Regions from separate parts of the Homo sapiens genome. Here region 1 is linked to region 2. The links come from fine-mapping of genetic effects on gene expression. Tissue or cell type: CD8 T cells. Region 2 holds a variant in brackets; the other region holds the start of a gene. All regions are shown on one strand. Distances are between the middles of the regions.

Region 1 (8,105 bases), 63 kb before region 2:
TTTATTATGTTTACTTAAGTGAGAAAATGAAAGTACTTAGGAATGTTTTTATTTTGCCTTACACAGCCTCCTTATTCGAGTTCCCCAAGGGCAAGCACATCTTTGTTACTTCCTGTGCCCAGAATTCTAAAGGTCCCTAATACGAAAACAATTATCAAGGCAAGATAGGCTGCAGTAGGTCCTTTAAGTGCAAGATGTCTGGTGCTTAATTACCAAATGCTTTCAAGGATCTTAGGTGTCCTCAAGGTCCTATTGTGAGTACTTTCATAAAATGCATTTTGTATTTTGTCACATCAAACAATTTCTGATCTCTGCTGTTTACACTTCCTTTTCATCTTCACTTTATCATGAGTATAATACTAAGTGTACTTCTAGTGAAATGATTTTTACCATTGTTCTTTTACCAGTTAAACAATGTTCTTTACAGACTTCCATAAATGGGCTTAAAGTACAACTTTACCTTTTTTTAACTAAAAAAAATATAGTTGACCTTATCTGTATAGTCATCTATAAAATAACTGGACTTTATAAAGTTTGCTGGACTTTAATAAAGGTTTATCTAATCTAATAGAACTAGGCCATCCTTTCTTTGTTTCCCACCAAAGTTAACAGTCTCTTCCTGTATGAAAAGTAATGACAAAGGGCTCTTTGAAAGTATCAATCCCTAAACTACTTGTGATCTTTTAAACTGAGAAAACTTCTTTTTCTTTCATGCTCCTTGGACACTGTTTTCTTAAGTGCTTTACACTGGTGGATGTATAAGTATTTTTGATGGTAATTATGGAAAAACTAACAAGAATGGTGACATTAGGTTTTTCTGTCTTGAACATGCTGCTTACAGTTGCATGGATGAAGTGAGGCTCTATTCTTCTTCTTTTTTTTTTTTTTTAATAGAGACGAGGTCTCACCATGTTACCCAGGCTAGTCTTGAACTCCTGGGCTCAAGTGATCCTCTCGCCTCGGCCTCCCAAAGTGCTGTGATTACAGGACTGAACCAGGGAACCTGGCCTCCATTCTTGCCATACCGTAGCATCACACTGAGGCCCTTGGAAAGTACTTAAACGCTGATTATCAATGTTTTGAAATATTAATGTGGGCGGCCGGGCACGGTGGCTCACGCCTGTAATCCCAGCACTTTGGGAGGCCGAGGCGGGTGGATTACCTGAGGTCAGGAGTTGGAGACCAGCCTGGCCAACATGGTGAAACCCCATCTCTACTAAAAAAATAGAAAAATTAGCCAGGCGTGGTGGCAAGTGCCTGTAATCCCAGCTACTCGGGAGGCTGAGGCAGGAGAATCGCTTGAACCCCGAAGGCAGAGGTTCAGTGAGCCAAGATCACGCCATTGCACTCCAGTCTGGGAGTGCAAGAAATATTAATGTGGGCACACAAGCTATTTCTCATTTTTTTTTATTGAAACAACATTGCTTAGTTTCATTTACCTTTCTGTGAAATGTCTTTCTGTGAAAGTCTATCACAGCCTGATGTAATTTTTATAAACAATGAATACATGCTGTTACTATTTTTGAAAGGAAATTTAATCGCTTGGAAAAATTCAGACTAAAGCCCCGAGAGGAAAATTATCATCCAGTGCATGCTCAGAGATTTCTTCTTACTCTACTTTTGTTTTTCCTTTTTGAAAGCATTTGTGATTGAGAGATGTCTGAGGGAAGGGACAAATTGCATTCTGGGAGTTTTAAAGAGTTATGTCAGGCAACTAAAATACGTGGCCTCTGTATTTAAAGAGATTTCACACCAGTATACTATTTGCTTTATAATTTTTGTGTTTCTTATTGTTTAAAAATGCCTTTAACATTTAGTGCTGTGTTAAAGGATAGCATGCCAGATTCCAGATTAATGTAAAGACTCCACTATTTAACTTTTCCCTAGTAACTTTAAAACAGAGTTTGGGTTCCAAGTTCAGCATGGAAAGATAGCATAAACATTTAAACTAAGTAAAGTGCGAAATACACATTTTTGAAGTTGGTAAGTGCTGTTTAATCATTTTCCCCTTCTCTCCCAAGTCTTTTGAAACTTCAAAAGGCTTGTTTAAGCAGTGTGTTTAAAAAAAAAAAAATCCATACCCAATTGGGCTCCTCTCTATTAAGGAATGTGGAAAATTCATGATTTATGAAACGATGACACCAGTCTTACATTTCACAGGCTCCCAAGCTCTGAAACACGGGTACATAGGAAAATACACAGAAAATTCCTGTTCTTTGCAACGTGCGAAACGTTTCAAAATGCAACTTTGCTCATCTCCCTCCCCCGTACAAACTAATAAAATCAGTTTGGCTCTGACTGCTTATTTTTAAAAAGTAGACGGCCTGGTAGGTGCTCTAGGGATAACCCTTCTCCCCCCACTCCACCCCCCTTCCCGCACACCCATTTAGACTGGCAAGCCCGTTTTCATTTTATTTCAAAGATTTTTTTTTTTTAAGCGAAGGCAGGGGACGGCGGGGGTTGCTAAATTTATCTTCCTCCCCAGCCACGGGGATGAAGAAAACACATTTACTGCGGGCGGGGGTCTGAGGGCCTGCAAACAACTCGAGCTGGAGCCTCGGCCAGGACCGGCGCGAGAGGCGGTAGGTCTCCAGGGAGGCCCCCGGGGGGCGGCCGCGGCCCACGGGACATGGTGGGGGGCGGCCGGGCCGCCTGCCTCTCCGCGGGGTCGGCCGACCGCGGCCCCGCGCGGGCTTTACGGCCGAGGCGGCGGCGGCAGCGGCGCGTGTGTGGCGGCGGCGGGCGGGAGCGCGGAGGAGGTGGAAAGAAGGGGGGCGCTGTCACGGAGACTCCGGCCGCCGGAGACCCCGCCGCAGCGAGGCCACTGGGCTCCCCGGTCGCGGGGCGGGAGCGGCGCCGACACGGGGTGCCAGGAGGACCCACCGGGCGGAGGAGGGGGCCTGTCTACCCTTCCGCATTTTCCTGGGTCTCTCTCCCGGGCGGTGACGTGACGTGCTGACGGCGGGCCCGTGCCGGGGAGCTGGGCCGCTTTTTGTCAGCTCCGAGCTCGGCCCCTCCTCCCTCCCTCCGCCCGCCCCACCAGCCGGAGCCCGGCCCAGTGCTCCAGAGAAAGGCCGGCCTGCAGCACCCGCCACCGTCGCCGGCCGCCCGCACGTCCGTCCGGTGAGTCCCGGGTGCCGCCGCGGCCGCGGGGCCTAGTGCGCGCACAGCGGCCTGGTCTCGGCCTGGTCGGCGGCCCGCAAGGCGCCCTCCCGCGCTAGGCCGGGCGGCGTGGCGCGCGGCGCCGAGCAGGCCCCGAGGAGGCCGCAGTTAGGCCCGGGGAGGAGCCCGGCTGCCCCGAGCGGCGGCGGAGGCGCGCTCCGTAAGCGGGCGGGGGTTGGGGGAGGGTCGCCCGGTTGTGCCGGAGGCGGTCGAGGGGCCCCGGGTCGGCTCCGCGGCCGACCTGGGGCACCGCGCCGGGGTGAGGCCTGGCGAGGAGGCGAAGGCTGCAGGCGTGAGGTGAAGGCCGCAGGCCGGCCGGGCCGATTTTCGCTATGTAAATATCGGTGAGGGGGGGGGAGGGACGGGGGACAAGATGGCGGCGGCTCGGCGCCTGCTGCAGGGGACGATAGAGGGGGTTGCCGGGAGGGGGAGCCGCCATCTTGGAGGCGGTGTCTGGAGAGAAAATTCCGCTACAGCCCGTGAGGGGGGGTGGGAGAGCGGGCGGCGGCGGCAGCGGCGCCGGTGACGGGCCCCGGAGGCCCGGCGCGGCGGCGTGTGCGCGCGGAGGGGCGTGCTCGCTCCCCGTGGCGGCCATTGCCCTTGCCGCCATGATGAGCGCTCGGGCTCCAGGCGCTCGGCGGCAGCGCCACCTTCCTGCCTTGCCTCCCGCAGCCCCGTGACTGGCTGCAGTTTCCGCTGCGTTTCAGCTGAGCTGCCGCAGGCGGCCACCGCCGCCGCCCGGACGCCGGGACCGTTTCACCCTCAGCGCCCCTGGCCCTGCGCCTTCCCCCGCGCCTGTAGCCACCCGAGGGCAGTCGGGGCAGGTGGCATTCCGGACACCTGGGCTTACCAGGGCATACGGGACCCCAGGAAATGTTATTTTTGCTTAAGTCAAATCATATGTGGCTGCTAAGGTGCTTTCGATGCAGTTGTTTTTCCAACAATCTTTGCCGCCCCGAGTATCTGAATAAAGGAAGAAAAATAAAGATTGATGGGAAAGTTTTTGCCATTCTTTTGTCCTATAGGGAAAAAAATTGCACAACACGAGAGCGGAGGAATAAAATTTTGAATCATTCGTACTCATTTATGTGGAAACAACTTTCTTGAAAAACGATTTAAGTAGTGATCTGTTGGTGGTATTTTTTTAAATCGAGGAATAAGGGCAGACTTTTTTATTTTCTTATTGGAGGACAACTTAGTGTGGTGCATATTTATTGTGCATTTGCCTGTCATGGTATTTCGATTTTTCATTTGTGAAGTTTTAAGGCGGAGTTTCATCCCCTAACGTACTTTTTTGATTGCACACTGTGCAACTTTCTTGATAAACTCGGAGCCTACTGTTAGCGATGCACCGTGCTAGATGCTAAGAAACATTAAAAAGGTTCTTGTAATGCAGACGGTGGCTGCAAGAAGTCTCATGTTTAGAGGTAGGTGGGGCAAGGTGAAATGCAGTAAAGTGAGAGGTACAACTAATTACTGGGATTTCCGAGGGAAGCAAGGTTGCCATTGGAGGATCAGGGAGGGACGGGTTCCTGAAGTATTAATAGGTGGCATTTTGAGAAGGTTACCGAGGGATGGGTAGGACTTTGTTAGGTAGAGGTGGAGGTGGAGAAAGGACGTTTCAAGGGTGAAGCTTCTTCAGTAAACAGTAAGTATTTACAGTTTGGCAAAAGTGGATGGTATAGGTAGGGGAGTGGTGGGAATTCAGGCTAGAAAAGTTAGATTGCAGAAGGGCTTGCTTGCCAGGTGGAGGGGCTTATACTCAATGGGGTAGGCAGCGGGGGTGCCCTCAACTAGAAGAGTGATGGCACACCTGAGCTGCACCTTGTTATTTACTTATTTTTTATTTTGAGACAGGTTCTTGCTATATTGCCCCAGGCTGGTCTCGAACTCCTGGGCTCAAGCCGTTCTCCCGCCTCCCACTGCCCGCCTGTCACTGCCGTCTGTTCCCTGAGCTGTGCTTTACGGTACTTAGTAGTTCCATTGGACTAGGAAAAGTTTCAAAGTTGAAAAATAATGAGAGTAGTAAGTTGATCAGTGTTTTCATTATCAGAACGATTACAAGAATGTTCAGAAGTTAAGCAAATTTTGCTACTTTTGGAACGATGCGTCTCTATTAAGACAGCTGCTCCTTTTTTCTATCCTGATTTCTCATCCGAAATAATCTTTTGCTCAGAGTTGTCAGAATTTCTATGGTACACAAATAGGGAGGGGTTTCTAACATTTCATTTACCATGGTTGAAAAGTACAGGACTAGTGCTGTGGGTTATTTGACGAAAATGAGAAATGAGTATTCCCGTGGTAATTTTTTTTTTTTTTTGAGACTGAATCTCACTCTGTCGCCCAGGCTGGAGTGCAGTGGTGTGATCTTGGCTCATTGCAACCTCTGCCTCCCGGGTTCAAGTAATTCTCCTGCCTCAGCCTCCCGAGTAGCTGGGACTACAGGACCCTGCCACCATGCCTGGTTAATTTTTGTATTTTTAGTAGAGACAGGGTTTCATGTTGGCCAGGCTGGTCTCGAACTCCTGACCTCAAGTGATCTGCCTGCCTTGACCTCCCAAAGTGCTGGGATTACAGGCATGAACCACCGTGCCCTGCCTGTTTCCTAGAATTTTATGATGGAAACCTTTAGGTGGCATAGATACCCATTTTCAGTTTTTCCATTTTTCTAGACTGTAACAGGTCGTGAGCAGCGGTGCTCCATGAAAGGGCTGGAGGGAATGAGAGTCTCATGTTTATTATAAAGGGCTATGGTTTAGAAAAGTTCGAGAAACAGTGCATTGCATGAGGCTGACTAGAAGCAAGTTGAGAAGGCGGGCTGTGGTTGTTGAGGTGTTAAGGGTAAACATAAACTTAGAAGAACCAGGTGCTTTTATATTTTGACAGCTGGGAAAGACATAGAAGAACTATTAAGAAGATAGAATTGTTTTGCTGCGCAGTACAGCAACAGTGGATGTTCAAGATTAAGATTAGAGTCAAGTTGTGTGATTAAGACAGGTAAGTGTGTAGTTTAGTTTCAATTAGAAATGGTTAAATATAAAATTATTTTTGCCTGAAAGGGTAGACCTTGAAACTTTGGAAAACTGACTGGTGGAACACCTTCGAACCCAACCACCCTGGATGAATAAGGTGTTAGTTTTTAATTTCTGTGTATTTTTCAGATAGATGCAGATTTCTTTTTTTAAAAAAACATGCTCACGAATGTGTTACAAATTTTTTTTTCCACATTGCTTTTTGTAAATGCTTACTCTCATTGCAAATGCTTACTCTCACTTAACCCATTTAGACTGATTCTGTCACTGATAATCTTCTTTGTATTATTTGTTCTTGTGTACACTGGCAATTCCAAACTTTTTTTCACTCTTAAAACTACTCAACGGGTCCTTGAAATCTCTCATCTTCAGCAAAGATTACCCAGTCTTTCACTTCACTGAGAAGGGTAGATGGCCATCTGATAAAGAGCCAAGTCTCCCCTCCCTTCCCCTTCATGCCTTTCCTGTCTTCACCTAGGCCTTCCTCCTTTTGCCGCAGGGGAGGTTGCAGGAGGGATTGCTGTCTCACAAGCCCCACTGCTGCTCTGAGCCTGCTCTTCACCCTGGCTGCCTCCTTAGGGACCAAGCTCTGTGCGTGATGCCGTCTCTTGCATCATTAACCTCTCTTTACAAATATTCCTAGGTTTGCTCATCTTACAAAAGCCTCACCTGTCTTCACTTTCTTTGCACCCCACTTATTCTTAAATCCAGTATTACCCAAATTGGGAAACTTGCACAGCATGTTAACAGGTGTGTTATATAAAAGTGCTCTGTGTTTCAGAAACTCTCTGTGCCTTCTCTGTCTTCTATGGTGGGATTCCCCTTAATTTATCATTTAATGTATTATATTTGAACTGTGTGTTTATATTTTTTCCTTCTACACTGTGAATATAGAGACAAGTTCTGATTTATCTTTGTCTCCAAGCAGTACCTGGCATATGGACCATTATCTCTCAAAGCAATAATTTCGGTTACTGGGTACAGAGAATTCTACGTAGTTAATAGTTTTCAGCTGTTCAAAAATCAGGTATCCAGTCAGTGTGTTTTTTGACTCAGGGACATACATATTAAGGCACACTTATTAGGGCACCAGGTCAAGGAGTAACCCCTCCCACCACCCCTTATCTGATTGGAATATGGCCAGCCTATTCTTATTCCTGCCAAGTTATTTTTCCAGACAACATTTTATAAAACCCAGGTATCTTGTAATTGTATTTTACTCAAAGGAAGTATACTCTAAGGAAATTGTGTGGCCTTGAGGTACACAGCCATTAGGCATTTAAAAAATATATTTAAAAAGTTTTATGGAATATTTTTAAATTACTGAAAATCAGAATCACCCAGATTTAAGAGATCTTAATATTTTGCTACATATTTGATTCATATCTTTTTGTTGTTTAAAGAAATAAAATCTCACAGATTCAAAGGGTCCCTCCCCATCCCCTTCCTGTCTTCTTTTCTCCAGAAGTAACCACCTGTCCCAATATGTATGTACCAAAACAATATCAGGTATTGCTTGTGTGTTTAACTTTACATAAACAGTATCATAACCATACCTTATATATTATTTTTACTTAACAGTGTGTTTTTGAGATTTATCCATGTAATGTGTTTAGTCCAGCAGTTTTCAAAGTGTGCTGCAGGGATTCCTGGGGATCCCTAAGATTCTTTCAGGGGGTCCATGAGGTCAAAACTATTTTCATAATACTTTTTATTTGCTCTTTTCACCCACATTTTCCTGTACACTATAGGAATACTGTACAGAGGCTGCATGACATATGATGTCATAATAGATAGAATGCAGAAACACTTACGGGAATCCAGCCGGTTTCTATTAAGCCAGACATGAAAGAGATTTGCAAAAATGTAAAACAGTGCCACTTGTTTTACTATTTTTTTTTGTTTAGAAAA
Region 2 (8,105 bases):
ATAAGTACTTTAGTTCATATGACATTCCTATTCTTGTATGATGATTTGCGTATTAAAAATTTTATGGGTATATTTAAACTTTGCTGTAAGTTAACGTAAGTTATGTTTTTTGGAATAAACAGTGGAAATTTTTGTCACCAAAGTTTATTTTTATGAATAATTTTCCACCAGTTTATTTACTTATTTTTTTTTGAGGCAGAATCTTGCTCTCTTGCCCAGGCTGGAGTGCAGTGGCGTGATCTCAACTCACACTGCAACCTCTGCCCCCTGGGTACAGGTGGTTCTCCTGCCTCAACCTTCCAAGCGGCTAGGATTACAGATGTGTGCCACTGTGCCCCACTAATTTTCATATTTTTAGTAGAGGCGGGTTTTCAGCATGTTATGTTGGTCAGGGTGGTCTCGAATTCCTGAGTTCAGGTGATCTGCCTGCCTCGGCTTCCGAAAGTGCTGGGATTACAGGCGTGAGCCACCGTGCCCAGCCAATTTTCCACCAATTTCTAAATTGCTGTAGGTTTAATCACTAATTGATAAAAGTTACATATTCATTAATTTTATTAAACTAGAGGGAGTGAAGGCGGTACAGTCTTCATGAAGGAAGTTTCCAGACCATTTTCTCTATGACTAGGTTGCTATATCTCTTGTGTTGAAAAACAGTAAAAGGAATGTTAAGCAGCAAATAGTCCAATTTAGGAGTCCTTGGCCAACAGTGGTCAGAACCCACACTTTATATTCGCAAAGAAACTGGAACAGAACTTGGTTTGAGCACTCATACTCCTTTCTTTTCCTTTTTTAGCAATAATTATTGGCCCTGATGGACATCCTTTGACTGTCTATCCTTGCATGATTTGTGGGAAGAAGTTTAAGTCGAGAGGTTTTTTGAAAAGGCACATGAAAAACCATCCCGAACACCTTGCCAAGAAGAAATACCGCTGTACTGACTGTGATTACACTACCAACAAGAAGATAAGTTTACACAACCACCTGGAGAGCCACAAGCTGACCAGCAAGGCAGAGAAGGCCATTGAATGCGATGAGTGTGGGAAGCATTTCTCTCATGCAGGGGCTTTGTTTACTCACAAAATGGTGCATAAGGAAAAAGGAGCCAACAAAATGCACAAGTGTAAATTCTGTGAATACGAGACAGCTGAACAAGGGTTATTGAATCGCCACCTCTTGGCAGTCCACAGCAAGAACTTTCCTCATATTTGTGTGGAGTGTGGTAAGGGTTTTCGTCACCCGTCAGAGCTCAAAAAGCACATGAGAATCCATACTGGGGAGAAGCCGTACCAATGCCAGTACTGCGAATATAGGTCTGCAGACTCTTCTAACTTGAAAACGCATGTCAAAACTAAGCATAGTAAAGAGATGCCATTCAAGTGTGACATTTGTCTTCTGACTTTCTCGGATACCAAAGAGGTGCAGCAACATGCTCTTATCCACCAAGAAAGCAAAACACACCAGTGTTTGCATTGCGACCACAAGAGTTCGAACTCAAGTGATTTGAAACGACACATAATTTCAGTTCACACGAAAGACTACCCCCATAAGTGTGACATGTGTGATAAAGGCTTTCACAGGCCTTCAGAACTCAAGAAACACGTGGCTGCCCACAAGGGCAAAAAAATGCACCAGTGTAGACATTGTGACTTTAAGATTGCAGATCCATTTGTTCTAAGTCGCCATATTCTCTCAGTTCACACAAAGGATCTTCCATTTAGGTGCAAGAGATGTAGAAAGGGATTTAGGCAACAGAGTGAGCTTAAAAAGCATATGAAGACACACAGTGGCAGGAAAGTGTATCAGTGTGAGTACTGTGAGTATAGCACTACAGATGCCTCAGGCTTTAAACGGCACGTTATTTCCATTCACACGAAAGACTATCCTCACCGGTGTGAGTACTGCAAGAAAGGCTTCCGAAGACCTTCAGAAAAGAACCAGCACATAATGCGACATCATAAAGAAGTTGGCCTGCCCTAACAATACTTCTACAGAACGTTTGTAGAGATATTGGCCTTGAAGCAGAAAATTCATTTTAAAGCCAATCAGTCTCATTCACATACAATACTGTATATTGATTTATGCTGTGTACAAATAGAATTATTACTTCTAGTTGACTTTTTTTTAAATATACATTTTGCTCAGTAGTGTGTTCTGAATTCTATTCAGTTTGTTTAATAAATAGGGAAAACTGGCAACATGCTAGTTACTTTTAATAAAGTAATCCCTGATTCTATACCGAAGTTTTATATCTTAGAATTTTATATTTATTTAAATATTTACCTTGCTTACCTTGATGGTACTCTTCTAAGACCATTAACTTAAGGTAACTTTATATTGGTAACTCTGAAAGTATTCATGTTGACTCATTTTTTTCCCCATACATTTCTCACAATAAAATTGTCAGAGACATCTACTAATATAAATGGGAGATTTTACAGTCAGGTCTAATTATCATAACATGGAAGTCATTTACTTGTCTTGCTTAATATTTTCAGACCACTTGACAGTGAAAGTTTCCATTTGAGCTGTTGCGTCCCTGGCTTTGCTGAGTAAAGAGCAGTGGCTGGGTTCGTGTTTACTTTTCAAATATACTTCTTTTGGCTTTCTTTGGATTATTTACATCTTTTGTCAGCGTAGCAAACTTTTAGAAAACCTTATTGAAAAACTGTGCTTGCTCATGTTGTATTTTGATTATTCTGTCTGTGCGGCTTCATCTTGGAATGGTTGTGTGCTACAAATGACACTTACTGAGGACTGCATTTTGGAATCTCCTAGAGGTAACTCATGGCTTATAGGATCTTTTGCAACTTTATGTATGTAAATGTACCCTGAATTATATATATACACATATATATCATGTACCTGTGTGTATTGCTTATTTTACATATTTATACACACAACCCCAAGTAGTAGTTGTTTAAAATCTATAATGAAAAGTATTAAATTTACAATAACATGAAAGATCCAGGGATGCATGAGAGAGCATTTTGTAAGTCATGCTCTTCAGAGAGACTACTCAGGTGAAGAATTAGAAGGAAAATAAGGACACTAGTATTTTTAAAGAGTAAAGATATTTTCTTTTAAATATCTTTGGTAATTGAAACATAGAGGTTAAGATGTTTCTAGGTAGAATGTTTTCATACAATTTCACCTCCATGTCTTTATGTTTTTCTGAAAAGCAAATGAGTATCCAGACATGACTCCCACAGTTCTCTTTGAGAAGCCTGAGAGGGAACTCTGTCTTACCTAGTGAGGGGGATGGAAAAGAAGTGATGGCTCTGTGGACCAGAGAACGGGTGCTAATTATGACTTCACACTCGGCAAGTTCAGGCTGATCTGTTATTTCTCAGTTACAGTTAGCAAACTTTAAAAACTTAACACTCAAGTTGGCTTTGATTAAAAGGTAAAGATGTGTTTTAAGTGGATAAGGAAAGTCTGAGGCCTTATTTGGAACATCACTAAGTCTTCCACAGGTTTTTTGTTTGTTTGTTTTTTTTTGTTGTTTTTTTTTCTTAAGACGGAGTCTTGCTCTGTTGCCCAGGCTGGACTGCAGTGGTGTGATCACTGCAACCTCTGCAGCTCACTGCAACCTCTGCTTCCTGGGTTCAAGCAATTATCTGCCTCAGCCTCTCGAGTAGCTGGGATTACAGGCGCCCACCACCACGCCCGGCTAATTTTTTGTATTTTTAATAGAGATGGGGTTTCACCATCTTGGCCAGGCTGGTCTTGAACCCTGACCTCGTGATCCACCTGCCTCGGCCTTCCATAGTGCTGGGTTTACAGGCGTGAGCCACCGTGCCCAGACACCACATAGGTCTGAATCAGTGTCATACATTCATAAAACAAACTCGGTTAATTAGAACTTGGTTATGTTAAGACGAATCTGGGAGAACAGAAAACAGTTTTTGGGGTCCCTTCAGTTGGCTATTGGTCCGTATGCATCTAGCACATTGTAGGAGATTTAGAAATTGTCTTCCCACCCGATAGCTGCCTTGTCACCTCATTATGGTGCTCCATCCCCTGTGTGCTTAGGTTTTTACCTTTCATCTTTCTCTTTGCCATTGATGTTTGTATTCAAGAGTTATATTTTTAGGGTTAGAAATCAAAATATTTGGTGTTTGGCAAACCTCTGAAGTGCTAGACTGATTTAGTCTAGTTTTAAACCAAGTGCTTTAGGCAGGTGTGAACTCCAGCCCAAATGCCAGTCAAAGTCAAGGCATGGGTTTTCCTAGCCTATCTTATAGGAAATTCCTGTACCTTCTTGGCCCCCATAATGT[GTTT/G]TTTTTTTTTTTTTTTTTTTAAACTAACTTACAATTTTGTGATCCGTGATTCATTGCCCTGCGATTCTTGAAAGCTCTGTCTGTTTTTTTGTGAGAACCTTTAAAATCTCCCTTAATTTTTATTTTCCCAGAAATAATGTAAAAACACTTAAATGAAAGTGGAAATGTATTAATTTTAAATCCTATAAAATTAATACAGAAAATATAAATGATTGGGTCATTTAACTATATTTTTTTAAATAAACTGAAAGATAAAGAACACAACACTTCACACATTTTATATTTCTCTTACATACTCCGGAATCATACACAGTTCTTTTTAAAGCACAACATTAAAACCTTTAAAAGGTATTTAAGGGTTTGGTCAAGTGAATATGATAAAACATACTTGTCTGTATAAAGAGAAAATGAAATTGTAGTCACTGTTATGTACTGACATTAGTTACAACCTAGTTTTAATTCTTAAAACAATTTTGATTAGCAAAGCTAAAAAAAAATGGATGTTTCAGTTAAATGTTTTAAAGAGGTACAGATTTTTACAAGGACATAATATAAGTTATTGTTCTGTAGAAATATCCTATTAAATATTGTATGTCCCTCCCTCTGTACACTTTGTAAAGAAAGTAAAATACATAAAAAGAAAATCATATAGGGATGTGTGACATTATTGTAATTGTGTACTTGAGAATAACGTGCAAAAATAAAAATCAGAATATTTTCCTGTTATTGAATGTTTAGTCTATTTGATACCAGTACTAAGTTAATGCTTTTTCTCAAGGAAAAAAAATGTACAGTTTTTGTAAACCTAATAAACATCAAAAGCAGTGGATTATTTTCATCCCCCCATTTCTTAATTTCTTTTTCACAGCAGTGGAATGCAAAGTGCTTGATTGCTTTGAATTTTGTGACTCGGATGCAAATACTGGTAATATTTCAGTTCTGTGAATTTGCAAGTAATATTTCAGAGAAGTTAAGAGGTGATTGGTGAGTCCTTTGATGAGCATGTCCTTGGAATTCATTTTTTCTTTTATCTTCATAAAGGATTTGTTTTATTAGCATCTCCAATTCCCCTGAGATAAATTACTCATGCATAAAGTGGTTTTTGAGAGCACTTAAAGTTCATTTCAGTATTAATTTACAGCATATTTAATCAGTGGGGACTGTTACCACCTCCACAACAGAAATCATGCCCTCGAGTTACCCCACTGCGCCCAGTTTAGAGGACTAGTAGATGCTAACATACTAGGGAATGGTCATTGCCACAGTTAAAAATCGGCAGTTAAGTAAATGTCAGGAGTCAAAAGAGATAGAGTTGTGCCATCTTTGATTTTATAGACAAGATTCTGCAGTTCTTCCAACTGTATGAACAAACGTTTGCCTAATAGTTGAAACAATAAATTAAAATTTTAGGTAAATGACGAAGGGAATGTGGTGAATGTCACTGTCCAGAGCCATAAATCAGACAAAACCATACATAGCATGCTGAAAAACTTTTGTAATGGAACACCCAACAAATGACACCTAACCTGTCTGTGATCCAACAAGTCCGATAACATGCTGCTGTATTTGTATTCTCTGGGAATCTCAGTATTAATAATTTCATTTCCCACAAATTCTAGCATTCATGTAAGGAAAAACATGGCTAATCAATATCTTAAAGGGGCAATCTTTCAGAGCAGTGGTTTTCAAAGTATGGCCGGACAGCATTGGCAGCATCTTAATCTCCTGGGACTTTGTTAAAAATGCAAATTCTCAGCCCCACCCTAGTCCTACTGAATTGGGAAACTGGCGTGGGACCCAGCAGTCTTTGTTTTAACATGTTCTCCAAGTGATTCTGATGCCTGTTCAAACTTGGGAAACACTTTTAGAGCACTTGAGGAACCTAAAAGATGACTGGTTCAGCATTTTGTGTGGTAGATAAGAAAGAAATTATCACAAAAAATCAGAAATGAACAGTGAGAGAAAAATAGGACCCCAGACAGTTTATACCTTCCATTTGCTGTTTTAAAAGTGTGAGCCTGCCAAGTCAACAAGTATGCCTTTAGCGCACATGTAAATAGCCTGCACTTCCTAAATCTCGTGTGGCCTCCCATGGTTACATTCTTCAAAGGTAAACTGAGTTGAGAGGAAGATTCAGCATTTAAAAGAGAAGGGTTGAAAAAGATTGTGTGTGTGTGTGTGTGTGTTTAATTGGCCCAGGGTTACTTAAATAAATCATAACCATTTTGCCACATTCTGTAACTGTTTAGCTAAGGTCAAATTAAGTTTACCCTATGGATTTTGTTTCATCTTTTGTTTCGTGTATATACTGTTTGCCTTTTTCATAAAAATCTTGGATTTGTTATATATTGTTCCTGTTATTTTTGACATCTTTGCTATTGTAAATAAATTACTATTTTGTTTTAAGTTACCCTAGTGGAGTGTTGGCTATAGACAAGGTATATACTCGAAACGAGGAGACTTAAATCACACAGTTAATGAATTCCCAACTTGTTTGAAGCTGGAGGTGATTCGACTCCCTTCAGTGGTTCAACACTAATAATAGCACCAAGGAACATGTCACTGGTGCATATAGGCATAGCATCTGTACCGACTTGGATTTCAAAATCATGTTTTGACCTCTGTGATGGAAGTACTCACTCCATGAAGTTTGAGGTCAAAATCAAGAATTACTTTCCTTTACTTGGTTTTTCCTATTCAATTGGTCTCTCATGTTACTTGTATTGCTGGTATTGGTGGACACAAAGGATCTGGCATTACAGTGACCTGTCGAGACTGTAAAGCCACTAGGAGACTTGGCTACTAAAAACCTGCTCAGGACTTCTAGATGTTGTTTGGCTCTGAACTACCACAGAAGTATCTAAACACATTGACTAAAAGTATAGAATAGTTAACTAGACCTATATTATTTTGCTTTCTAAGAGGCCAGTTTCTGCTTTTAAATGCAGAACCCATTTCCTTTTGTCTGAGATTCTTTGAAATAGGAGGGGTATTGCAAAGCCATCTGTTGGGGTTTTGAAGGTTCTAGTCACCTGTCCTCCCCTCTTGAGTTCTAACCACATTGAAGATAGACAAGAAACCACCAATTAAGTGTGCGATTTATTCTAGTAAGGCTGGATTGGGAGACCCAGAGGCTGAGATGAGTCTGTTTCCAATCTCTTTCCCTCCAATGTAGGCCTTGACTGATGCAGCCAGTCATTTGAAGGCATGGGGCCTACCTTCCACTCCTTTGTGAGCTATCAGGAGACTAGTTCTGTCATCAGAGAAAGGGAGCATCTACTCCAGCCCTCCCAGGCTAGAACACAGGAAAAGGGGGAGAGTTCCCTTACATCATCCTAATAAAGGTTAGTCCAATTCTGGATTGCCCTCTGACATTAGCACACTAGCAACATGTGAGGTTTCGCCATTAGCCTTGCATGTTTGTGTCCACTTTTATTGATTTTTACTGTTCCCCCTTGAAGTGGTGGTTGTGGCAGACTTTCTAAAGTTCCTTTCTCTCTCAAGGCAGTATGCTTTGGTGGTTCTTCAGAAAATTAATTTTTAAAGGGCAAATGTACTTACTATACAAAGATGGAAATCTTGCAAGTTATTTTTATTGCATGCTTTCGTAACAAAAATTGGGAAAATGATCACCCACAAGGCCACCACCTTTATTAAAGGGATTGCTTGTCTTTGTTCTCTTCTAGTCTTAGTCCATACACATAAATCTTTTATCTGTCTTGTAACCACAATATCAATTCTATTCTGGGTTCAGGGATTTTCTTTTTCAAACATCAAATGTAATTCATGTGTCTACACCAGTATATGGGAGAGTTCGTTCCCCTC

Which allele goes with the higher level. Alleles are on the strand shown, and positions count from the first base shown. SD is a standard deviation of normalised expression in the study named.
For the expression in CD8 T cells of the gene that starts at base 3,058 in region 1, allele G in region 2 goes with a higher level than allele GTTT (small effect, 0.40 SD a copy in CEDAR).

The links. PIP is the estimated chance that this variant, and not a neighbour inherited with it, causes the effect.
Region 1: ZFX starts here. The variant in region 2 is fine-mapped to the expression of ZFX in CD8 T cells (CEDAR, PIP 0.95).

Annotation. Positions count from the first base shown.
Region 1 is chrX:24,146,672-24,154,776 of GRCh38, forward strand. It overlaps ZFX (zinc finger protein X-linked), which reads left to right and starts at 3,058. Exons shown (of 10, transcript NM_003410.4): 1 at 3,058-3,123; 2 at 5,020-5,129; 3 at 6,049-6,159. It overlaps ZFX-AS1 (ZFX antisense RNA 1), which reads right to left and starts at 2,983. Exons shown (of 3, transcript NR_046657.1): 1 at 2,884-2,983; 2 at 2,082-2,171. RefSeq lists enhancers at 2,395-2,494, 2,701-3,514, 6,900-6,989 and silencers at 2,605-2,964, 3,025-3,434, 3,455-3,504, 3,555-4,064.
Region 2 is chrX:24,209,400-24,217,504 of GRCh38, forward strand. It overlaps ZFX (zinc finger protein X-linked), which reads left to right. Exons shown (of 10, transcript NM_003410.4): 10 at 794-6,856. The coding sequence ends at 1,977. Among named protein-coding and RNA genes, the nearest start is that of ZFX, 64 kb to the left of the region's middle. The variant GTTT/G (reference allele first, on the strand shown) is at 4,278.